Regions from separate parts of the Homo sapiens genome. Here region 1 is linked to region 2. Evidence: fine-mapped expression QTL. A gene starts in region 2. The other region holds a variant in brackets. All regions are shown on one strand. Distances are from middle to middle. Region 1 overlaps LINC02328 (long intergenic non-protein coding RNA 2328). Region 2 holds the start of LINC02328 (long intergenic non-protein coding RNA 2328).

The links. PIP is the estimated chance that this variant, and not a neighbour inherited with it, causes the effect. A credible set is the group of variants that fine-mapping cannot tell apart.
Region 1: its variant is the best candidate, but not a certain one, in a credible set for the expression of LINC02328 in cerebral cortex (GTEx, PIP 0.63).

The regions. Positions count from the first base shown.
Region 1 is chr14:85,977,066-85,982,457 of GRCh38, forward strand. The region is part of intron 1 of LINC02328 (long intergenic non-protein coding RNA 2328); the gene reads left to right. Among named protein-coding and RNA genes, the nearest start is that of LINC02328, 45 kb to the left of the region's middle. The variant T/A (reference allele first, on the strand shown) is at 2,283.
Region 2 is chr14:85,932,438-85,937,829 of GRCh38, forward strand. LINC02328 (long intergenic non-protein coding RNA 2328) reads left to right here and starts at 2,241. Exons shown (of 4, transcript NR_110155.1): 1 at 2,241-2,424. RefSeq lists enhancers at 1,726-1,775, 2,146-2,355.

The DNA of each region.
Region 1 (5,392 bases), 45 kb after region 2:
TAGCAAGTGCATGGCTTATTCAACCATACTTTTCAATGCATTAAAATTCAAAAAGGGCATTAAAAGGTATGGTTTTGGACTATAAGCTTATATAGAAATTTGTAGGTGAAATAACAACATGAAAAGAAGATAAAAACAATATATTGAAACTGACTACAATCTTACTGATCACAGGTCTGAGTACAAGTTTTTACTACTTACATCATAACTCCTCTTATGGACCATCATCAATACCTAATCTGGAAAATTTCCCCTGCTCCTTGTCATATATTCAAAATTAATAGATATTTTTTCTCTTAACACTAATAAGTTTTTAATTACTTCCTATCTTATCTGTTATCACAATGAATCAAATTAGTTAGGTATGCTTATGTATCTGGTTTTTCAACACCTATTTAAGGGAAGAAACAATAGGCCATTCATCTTTATATTTCTGGGACCAGAGACATAGCACTTTTGTGTCCTCAATATCCCCAAATATGACTATCACAGGGAAGGTGCCCACAAAATGTTTGCTGAATGAATCTAGTTAAGTCCTCAATAAATACCAGCTGAGTGAATGAATGGAACTTCATAGAACTATAATCATATTGATGATCTGCATTACATTTCAAATTGTTTAATACAATTTAACATTCATGATATGCACTTTTTCAGGTAAAATGTAACACCTTGACTATTGTACATTAGGATGTTCTTGAAATGTGAAATCTAAATAAATATGTATACAAATTTGGTATCTCTTTTCGTGGCAGCTCTCCTTGGCTGAGATTTCTGGATCCCCTGTGGGATCTACTGAACTCAGTATCACACGTAACTTAGCTTTGTTTGATTCAACCTGCCACACAGTTCACCAGCCTGGATCTTGTTGATGTAGCTCATTATCCATAAATCACTACCTGCATTGTCTAATTTAAGATCCAGGGTAACTGCATACTTGTGTTTTGTTGTTGTTTCTTTTTTTGGGGGGAGAGGAATTTACATGAAAGCAGAACAGAGAGTACCATGATTATACACTAAATAGAATAAGAGAACAGAGTATCATTACTTTTTATTCTCTCATTCTTTTCCTCTCAACAGATTACCCACAAAGTACTGTTCACTGATTTTGTCTCCTTACCAACATTACAAAATTATGTGTTTTATTTAAATATGCCACCAGCAAATCATCTGAGCATTCCGCTTGAATTAACACCAGGTTTATACACACAAAAAGAATAATGAATGGATGGTTCAAATAAAGAAGGTGTGCATACGTGTTTTGCTAGGGTCTCTGAAATTAACCTGAAGTAGCCTGGATCTCTGTTTCAAAGTGTTAATTACAGTGCCAGGGCATTTCTATTTTTTTTCTTCTTTTTGTGGAGGTTTTGATGTTTTCTCCAATAAGGACAACTATCTAGATTGCTTTAAGTGAATGTTCTTAAAAGCTGCTGGCAAAGATAGACAAATCTAGAAAGCCTTGATGTTGCATAAACAATATTATTTTCATTACATGTATTTCTACACATTCCCATGAAAAATTAAATTTTGGCTCCTTCTGAGAGCCAAAGGTGAGTGTGTGTGAAGTGAGGGAGATTTATATGAAAGGACACAATGCAAAAGATGAAAATAATTCTATCCTCTTTCCCTTAGACAAATGGTTTGGGTTTAACTGCCCTTGTTTTTGTTGGATGTGAATATGTTAATCTTCTTTTTCAAAACATACAGACTTACGGAAATGGAAGTGAACATCTGTTCAACTGTCAAGTCACCAGCTAAATTCAAGTCTGAGAAAAGAAGACAATCTGTTTAAATGAAACTTTGTGTGAATGAAGGCCAGAGTTTTTGGCACTTGTGTTTGCAAAAAAAAAAAAAAAGAAAAAAATTTTAAACAATTGTTACTAAAAAAAAAAATCTTTTTCTAGGATGACCTTTGTTTGTTTAAACTGTTGGAAAATCAATATTTAAAATGAAATCTAGAAACTGAAGTGTGCCCTCTGCAGGATCACCAGAATGATGGGAAAACTGAACACAATCAACTCATGAACTCCCCAAGGTCAGAGGTTTGGTCTAATTCAATAACTAATATCTAGAAGGTATTCTAGAAAAATGCATGTTAACAGAGTGAGCAAAAGTAACAGTCAAAGAAACCCAGGAATCACATTTCATGCCTATATTAGTCTGTTCTCACACTGCTAGTAAAGACATAACTGAGACTGGGTAATTTATAAAGGAAAGATGTGTAATTAATTCATAGTTCCACATGGCTGGGGAGGCCTCATCATCATGGCAGAAGGCAAAAA[T/A]GAAGCAAGACACGTCTTACATGGCAGCAGGCAAGACAGCGTGTGCAGGGGAACTGCCCTTTATAAAACCATCACATCTCATGAGACTTACTATCACAAAAACAGCATGGAAAAACTCCCTCCCATGAGTCAGTTACCTCCCACCAGATCCCGCCCATGACACATGAGGATTATGGGGGCTACAATTCAAGATGAGATTTGGGTGCAGACACAGCCAAATCATATCATATCCTCTGTTTTCCAAAGATCTTATATAATTTAGTTCTACTTTAGAAAAATTAATCCAATGATAGTTGGCAGTATATACAGTTGTGTAAAAGATGGGTAATTTTTTGCATACTCGTAAGAGTTCAGAAAATTAAGATATAAGCTATTGGTTAAGAGAGGGAATAGCCTCTCTCATTATGACAAAAATTAATAGTTGATTATTTTTTTCATATATGATAAAAATCTTAGTCCATATGTGTTTCAATTTAAAAGACATGAGAAGATAATATGATTTTTCCTCCAAAGTTGACTGGTTGGCTATTAGACTGCAAATCTCATAATATAATTACCTTGGTGGAAACATAGTAATTTAAATATTGGACATTAGATTTGCAGGTGCAGGAAATCAATTGTGTCAATATACAAAAATTTTATTATACTATTACAATGATTCACACTAAAAATATTTGGCGGGGATTGATATATAAATATACATGGCAATGTATTAATTTATAATGGTGGTGATTTCTCTAACTACCTTCACCCCAGCTATATATCATATAGTCATAGTTGGAAACCACCGAGGAGGGTCACTCCAGCTGAGAGAGTCAAACTGTCAAGTCCCTACACTCTGACATCACCCTGCTCAAAAGGGTTCTCCATCTGCCGTTGCTCTCTTTTCTATCGGTCAATGCCTCATGTATAAGGAAACATGATCTTCTATCATTTACTGTACTGTTCTTCTCAATGTTCTGCACTTGCTTTTTTTGGACTCAGCTGTCTACCATATCCTCATCTTCAAAACTTTCCCACAGTATTTTCTAGAACTATCCATCTAGAATAATAATAATAATAATAAAACCTATCTTCAACTTCTACATTGCCTGCCATAAGTGAAACTTGACTCATCTGAAGATATCACCTGTACTGTTTCCCTCTTAATGCTGGTTGCTTATTTTCGGACACACACACACACCCCTGGATGGTGAGGTGGTATTTCTGAACTCCCTAAACTGCAGTGGCACTTCTAGCAATGAGACACCATTCTCTTGTAAAACTAACAAAAAACACATGCACATACTGTATTGGTTTGTTTTCAAATTGCTATAAAGAAATACCTGAGACTGGGTAATTTATTAAAAAAAAAAAAAGAGGTTTCATTGGCTCACGGTTCTGTAGCCTGTATAGGAAGCACAGCAGCTTTTGCTTCTAGGGAGGCCTCAGGAAACTTACAATCATGGTGGAAAGCAAAGCGGAAGCAGGCACATCTTATATGGCTGGAGTAGGAGCAAGGTGGTACAGATGGAGCCACATACATGTAAACAGCCAGATCTCTTGAGAACTCATTCACCATACAGTACCAAGAAGGGATGGTGCTAAACCATTCATGAGAACTCTGCCTCCATGATCCAGTCCCCACGTCCAAAAATTTGACTTAAGATTTGGTGGGACACTAATCCAACTCACCTACACACACACACACACACTCTCACACTAAACACATTTGAGATTCATTTGAGATTCATGAAATTTCACTATACAATTCCAACTGCTTTCTTACTGCTATCATCTAACTTCTGGTAATTGGTTCACTAACATATCTTCATCCAAATTCTGTCACTGCCATCCTTCATGACGTATGAACCCTCTATGCTTAACATACTTGTCTCCGAAGAATCTGTCCTCTGCCCTGTCGTACATCCGTATCTCTCACACTATGAATTTTGTTATAAATGCAGATTATCTCTACTACAGAATTGCTAATTCAGTTATTACACTCTCTGAGTACAACTTGCTTTCCTAGCTATGGTCATTTCTGTACTTCAGTGAGAGTCCCAGTTCATGGCATTTCCAAATTCGTAGAGTTCTTTAGGCGTCTCATTTTTGTTATCAACATTACTTTCTAATCATAAATCTTGTTCAGAATTTCTTGTTAACAACTTCTTTTCATCATTATATCAAAAGTGTCAATTCTTCTCCGCGTATTTTCAAACTTGAACTCAGCCTCCCAGTTCCCAGCCAAAGAACAATCTTATCTCTTCACATAGAAAATATGATATCACCCTCAATTTCTGCTTCCACCTATACAAACCTATCTACACTTACCTCTATTTTGTCCTGCTTCCTTCTGCTTAAGCATAGGTACTTGGGGACTGTTTCCTCTCACATTCAAAGAAATCTTTTCTTATGTGAGTTCTCCATTATCTCCTATCTATTCGTCAACATTCTCACATTAAGATCCTAATTGTTCCAAGGAAAATGTTTCTGCTTTTTTAGCTTTATGGATTTTCTACGTTGATTCATTTTCATGTAAATAGAAAGTGTGGGCTAAACTTTTATCTACCTTATTGAATATTAAGTAAACTAAAATGCTTAAAAAGCGATTTTTCATACCGAAGAACTAAACTTTTCTCTGTACTTGGACACTTTGATAAATCATAATTGGTAGTTTACAGATGGGAAGCTTACTTGCAAATGTTCTAAAGATGAATGCTTCCTTTTGTATGACATTTTGATATAAATTAAGATCCATGTGTTTCATATATTGCTGAAAAAAAAATAGTGTTAAAACAATACTTCCTCTGCTGAATATATGTGAAACTATATCTTTGATTAGTGATTCTGTCTCCTCTTCCACAGCAAAAAATAACCCTCAAATTTCTGTAATTCTTTCCTGCTTCCTTTGCTTCTGCTATGAATGTTTTCTTATGACACTGGAAAAAGTTTTAGTAGCTAACTATATATATTCACATACATACATATGTGTGTATATGTATATCTATATATATGTGCATATCATGTGTACATATTTATACATACACATTTATATCACAATGACAGTAGATATAGCATTATATGGCTCCTCTCCCACCTGTTATTTTAGGAGCAGCTGTAATTCTTAA
Region 2 (5,392 bases):
CTGGGATGAGTAGGTCTAAAGTGAATAATCCACTGTACCATCCCAATCTTCCTAAGCCTTTGGATCCCTTCCTCTACATTAAACCAAAGGAGATCAGGCATTTCTAGCTCACTCGTAGTAGGCCATCTTTTAATCTATATTTTAGCTAAACAAGCAAATAAACTATTAGAACCTTTTTTAACTCCCCCAGCTGAAACATTAAATGAACAATCCCTACTTAGTGGGCCCAAATCAATAAATTCAGCCTGATCCAACTCTATGTTCCTTCAACCATTATCCCACACCCTTAATATCCATTCCCATGCCTGTTCTCCAGATTTCTGTTTAAACTCAAGCAATTCTTTTTGGGTGTAGAACATCTCATGGGTCACACTCTCAACCTCACCTCTAGAGGCTCGCCTGGACTTTAGTCTAGTTATAGGTCTAGAAGGAAACAGGGGTGTTGGAGGTGGCTCCTGAAGATAATCAACTTTACCTTGCCTGGAAACTGCCTCAAGGGAGGCCATCACTGTTGCCTCAGGCAGCACAGGGTTTATCTCCTCAGACAAAGGTGGAAAGGCTGATGGCAGTGTGGGTCAGGGAGGGGATATTGTCTCTACTGGGGATGGGGAAGCTGTTTCCTCTGGCCGAAAAGTTTCATCAGAGTTTACAAACTCAGTGTCCCCAGCTTCATTAGGGTCCTCCCACACGTCCCCATTCCAAGTTGCAGGGCCCCATTCTTTTCTAATCAAAGCGCTCACTTTAACAGTGGACACCTGGTGAGGCTGTGCATGCATCTTTCATTACAGGTCAGCCTACATGATAAGGGTTTGTGTCTGTTTTTCCACAATTTCAGCTCTTTCTCTACAGGAAGATAAGACTCTCACTCAGGGCAGTCTTAGCAGATTTGAGGCTCAGTATCTGCTTCTGAGGCCGGGAGATAGAATCCCTGAGTTCATTATTTTCTTTCATCACTTTTTCCACTGAACTTAGGAGCAACCAACCAGCTTCATTATGTTCCTTGGTTCTCCACATATGGTCAAAGGTATTACATGTAGAGTCACTAAAATCCTTGCCTCTCAGGAGCGATGAATCAGGAGTGTCAAATGCATTTATTTTGCATATTTCTCGAACAGTTCATGCCAAGGATTATCAGTGTTCTCCATGCTATTAGAAGTAGAGTTCTTAGCATTTTTGGCGTCTAATATTAAGCAGCCAACACCAGAAATTCCAAAACCAATGAAAGAACTACATCCTTAATATTCTGTTCCTCTAGAAGACCACTTCTGGTACCAACATCTGTATCAGGGTTCTCTAGAGGGAAAGAACTAATGGAACACACATATATACATAAAGGGGAGTTTATTAAGTATTAACTCACACAATCACAAGGTTCCACAATAGGCTGTCTGCAGGCTGAAGAGTAAGAAGAGCCAGTCTGAGTTCCAAAACTGAAGAACTTGGAGTCGGATGTTCCAGGGCAGGAAGCATCCAGCACAAGAGAAAGATGTAGGCTGGGAGACTAGGCCAGTCTCTCTTTTCCATTTTTCTGCCTGCTTATATTCTAGCCACCTGGCAGCTGATTAGATTGTGCCACCCAGATTAAGGGTGGGTCTGCCTTTCCCAGCCCACTAACTCAAATGTTAATCTCCTTTGGGAACACCCTCACAGACACACCCAGGATCAATACTTTGTATCCTTCAATCCAGTCAAATTGACACTCAGTATTAACCATCACATATGTCTTTGCTATTGTGAGTAGTGTGGCAATGTACATACAATAGCATGTGTTTTTTCCAGTATGATGACCTAAATTCCTTTCGTTATATACCCAGTAATGGTGAGGGACTAAGTGGCTAAGTTGGCTGGACTTCCTGGGTCAATAGGGACTTCCCTAAGGGGACTATCCCCTAAACCCAAATAAGTCACAGCTGCAAGCTAAGGGATTTAAACTTCAACCAATCAAAGGGGACTTTCCCCTAAGCCAAAATGAGTCACAGCTGCAAGCTAAGGGATTGAAACTTCAACCAATCATATAGGGAGTTTAAGGTCTAGCTACAGCCTGATGTTTTTAACCAATCAGGCCCATCAACCCACAAGTGGGTTGAAAATAAGCTAATTGTATAGGACAGAAAAAGGAAAAGGGGAGGGGTCATAAGGCGATATAAGCATAAGACACCCAAGCCAGAAACAGCAACCCTTCTGGGTCCCCTTCCACCACGCAGAAGCTTTACTTTCGCTTTCACTTTACTTTTGCTTTCACTTTAACAAATCTTGCAGCCGCACACTCTTTGGGTCCGCCCGTTTCTCTAATCAAGTTGTAACACTCGCTGCTGTGGTCCACAGCTTCATTCCTTGAAGCCCGTGAGACACGAACGCTTCCATTGAGAAAAACCTTCCATCAGAAGAAGACTTCTCGTCTCAGTGGGACTGCTGAGTTGAATGGTACCTCTGTTTTAAGTTCTCTGAAAAGTCTCCAAACTGCTTTTTATAGTGGCTGAACTAATTTTCATTCTCACCAACAGTGTATAAATGTTCCTTTTTCTCTAGACTCGCCAGCATATGTTGTTTTTTGACTGTAGAGTAATAGCCATTGTAACTGGTTTAAGATGATATAGCATTGTGGTTTTGATTTGCATTTCCCTGATGATTAGTGATGACAAGCATTCTTTCATGTTCGTTGGCCGCTTGTATGTCTTCTTTTAAGAAGTGTCTGTACATGTCCTTTGCCCATTTTTTAATGTATTCTGTTTTTTGCTTGTTGTAAGTTCCTTACAGATTCTGGATATTAGGCATTTGTTGGATGCATAGTTTGCAAATATTTTCTCACATTCTGTAGGTTTTCTGTTTACTCTATTGGTAGTTTCTTTTGCTGTGCAGCAGCTCTTTAATTAGGTCCCACTTGTCAATTTTTGTTTTTGCTGCAATTGTTTTTGGGGACTTAGCCAAATTTTCTTTGCCAAGGCCAGTGTTGAGAAGGATATTTCCTAGGATTTTTATAGTTTGAGAGCGTACATTTGAGTCTTTAATTCATCCTCAGTTAATTTTTGTATCTGGTGAAAGGTAGGGATCCAGTTTCAATCTTCTGCATACTAACCAGTTATCCCAGCACCATTTATTGAATAGAGTGTCCTTTCCTTGTTGCTTGTTTTTGTTGGCCTTGTTGAAGATTGGATGGTTGTATAGTCACAGTTTACCTTGTATCTGGGATCTCCTAACCTCCTAAATAATTTTTTAAAAATTTTCATACATTACGGTTAAGTTTTTGTGCTCTAGACTTTTATGGGTTTTGATAAATGCATAATATCATCTATCCACCATTGCAGTATCATACAGAATAGTTTCACCACTCTAGGCAATCTCTTGTGCTTCACCTACTCAAATCTGTGTCTGTGAACCTCTAGAAACCACTGATATCTTTATTTTCTTTATTTTTTCATTTTTAGAGACAGGGTCTTGCTTCGTTTCCCAGTCTGGAGTGCAGTGGCACCATATATATGGCTCACTGCCACCTTTACTTCCTGGGCTCAAAGGATCCTCCTGCCTCAGCCTCCCAAGTAGCTGGGACTACAGGTGTGCACCACCATGCCCAGCTAATTTTTAATTTTTTTTGTAGAGCCAGGGTCTTGCCATCTTGCCCAGGCTGCTTTCAAATGATATCTTTACCCTCTCTATAAGTTTGCTTTTTCCAGAATGTAATATAATCATGCAGTATGCAGCAGTCCTTTCATGCTGGCTTCTTTCATTTAGCAATACACATTTAAGAATCATCTATGTCCTTGTACAGCTTGATAGCTCATTCTTTCCTATCTCTGAATAGTATTTCATTGTATGGATATACCAGAGTTTATTCATTTCTGTGTTGAAGAACATCTTGATAGCTTTCAGTTTTTGGTGATAATTTTATAAAATTCTATAAACATTCATGTGAAAGTTTTCTGTAGTTAAAATTTCTCAAATCATCTAGGTAAATATCTAAGAACCCAGCTGCTGGATTACAAGGTAAAAATATGTTTAGCTTTGTTAGAAACTGCTAAGTTATCCATCAGAGTGGTTGTACCATTCTGCATTTTCTCCGGTGATGAATGAGAGTTCTTGTTGCTCCTCATCCTAACCAGTATTTAGTATTAGCATATTTTGGTTTTTAGCCCTCTTAATACATGTACAATGTTATCTCATTATTATTTTAATTTTTATATACCTAATGACAACCAATGTTGAGCATCTTTACATGTACTTATTTGCCATATATATGGTGGTATCTGTTTAGAACTTTTGCTTACTTTTTAATTGAGTTGTATTTTATTCTTGAGTTTTAAGCATCACTCTGTATATTTTGGATGTATTATTTTTATTTTTTCTATCTTTTTTTTTTTTTTACCAGATATGTGTTTCACAAATATTTTTTTCTCATTCTATGGCTTGTCCTTTAACTCTCTTAATATTTCTCAAAGAGCAGATGTTTATAATTCTAATAAAGTCTTACTTTTTTTTCATGTATTGTGCTTTTGGTGCTGTATTTAAAAACTCATCGACAAATCTAAGATTCCATAGATTTTCTCTTTTCTTTTTCTTTTAGATGTTTTATAGTTTTTCATTTTAAAGTTAGGTACTTGATCAATTTCAACTTAATTTTTGTGAAAGCTGTAGAATATGTGCTAGGTTCTTTTTGTTTTAATTTGAGTATCCAATTGTTTCAGCACTATTTGTTTAAAATGTCAACATTTGCTTCATCGACTTGACTTTGAATCTTTGGGAAAAATGGAAACTACCATTGCAAAATTATAACTGAGACAGTGAAAGATATTTGACCTAACCAACTCCATTTTCTTCTAACCTCCAAGCTGTCCTTGTTCATTCCTCGGTGTAGGCTGAACTAACTTTGGGAGGAACTTAGTTTATAGTTTAAAACAAAAACAATAACAGCCCTTTCCCCAGACAAACCTCCTTCTTGCCTGGGGACTAGACTGCCTTTGTAGGACTAACAAATTAGCCACAAGATTAGAAATTATGGGCTGGGTGCGGTGGCTCATGCCTGTAATCCCAGCACTTTGGGAGGCCAGGCGGGTGGATCATGAGGTCAGGAGATCGAGACCACCCTGGCTAACATGGTGAAACCCCATCTCTACTAAAAATACAAAAAAAAAAAAAAATTAGCCGGGTGTGGCGGCAGGCACCTGTAGTCCCAGCTACTCGGGAGGCTGAGACAGGAGAATGGTGTGAACCCAGGAGGTGGAGCTTGTGGTGAGCCAAGATCGTGCCACTGCACTCCAGCCTGGGCGACAGAGTGAGACTTGGTCTCAGAAAAAAAAAAAAAAAAAAAAACAAAAAAACCCTAATCTGCTCTTAAGATCAGTGATTGAGATAAATTTGCAGACCCTCCCCTTGATGGATCAGCTGGCACCACCCAGAT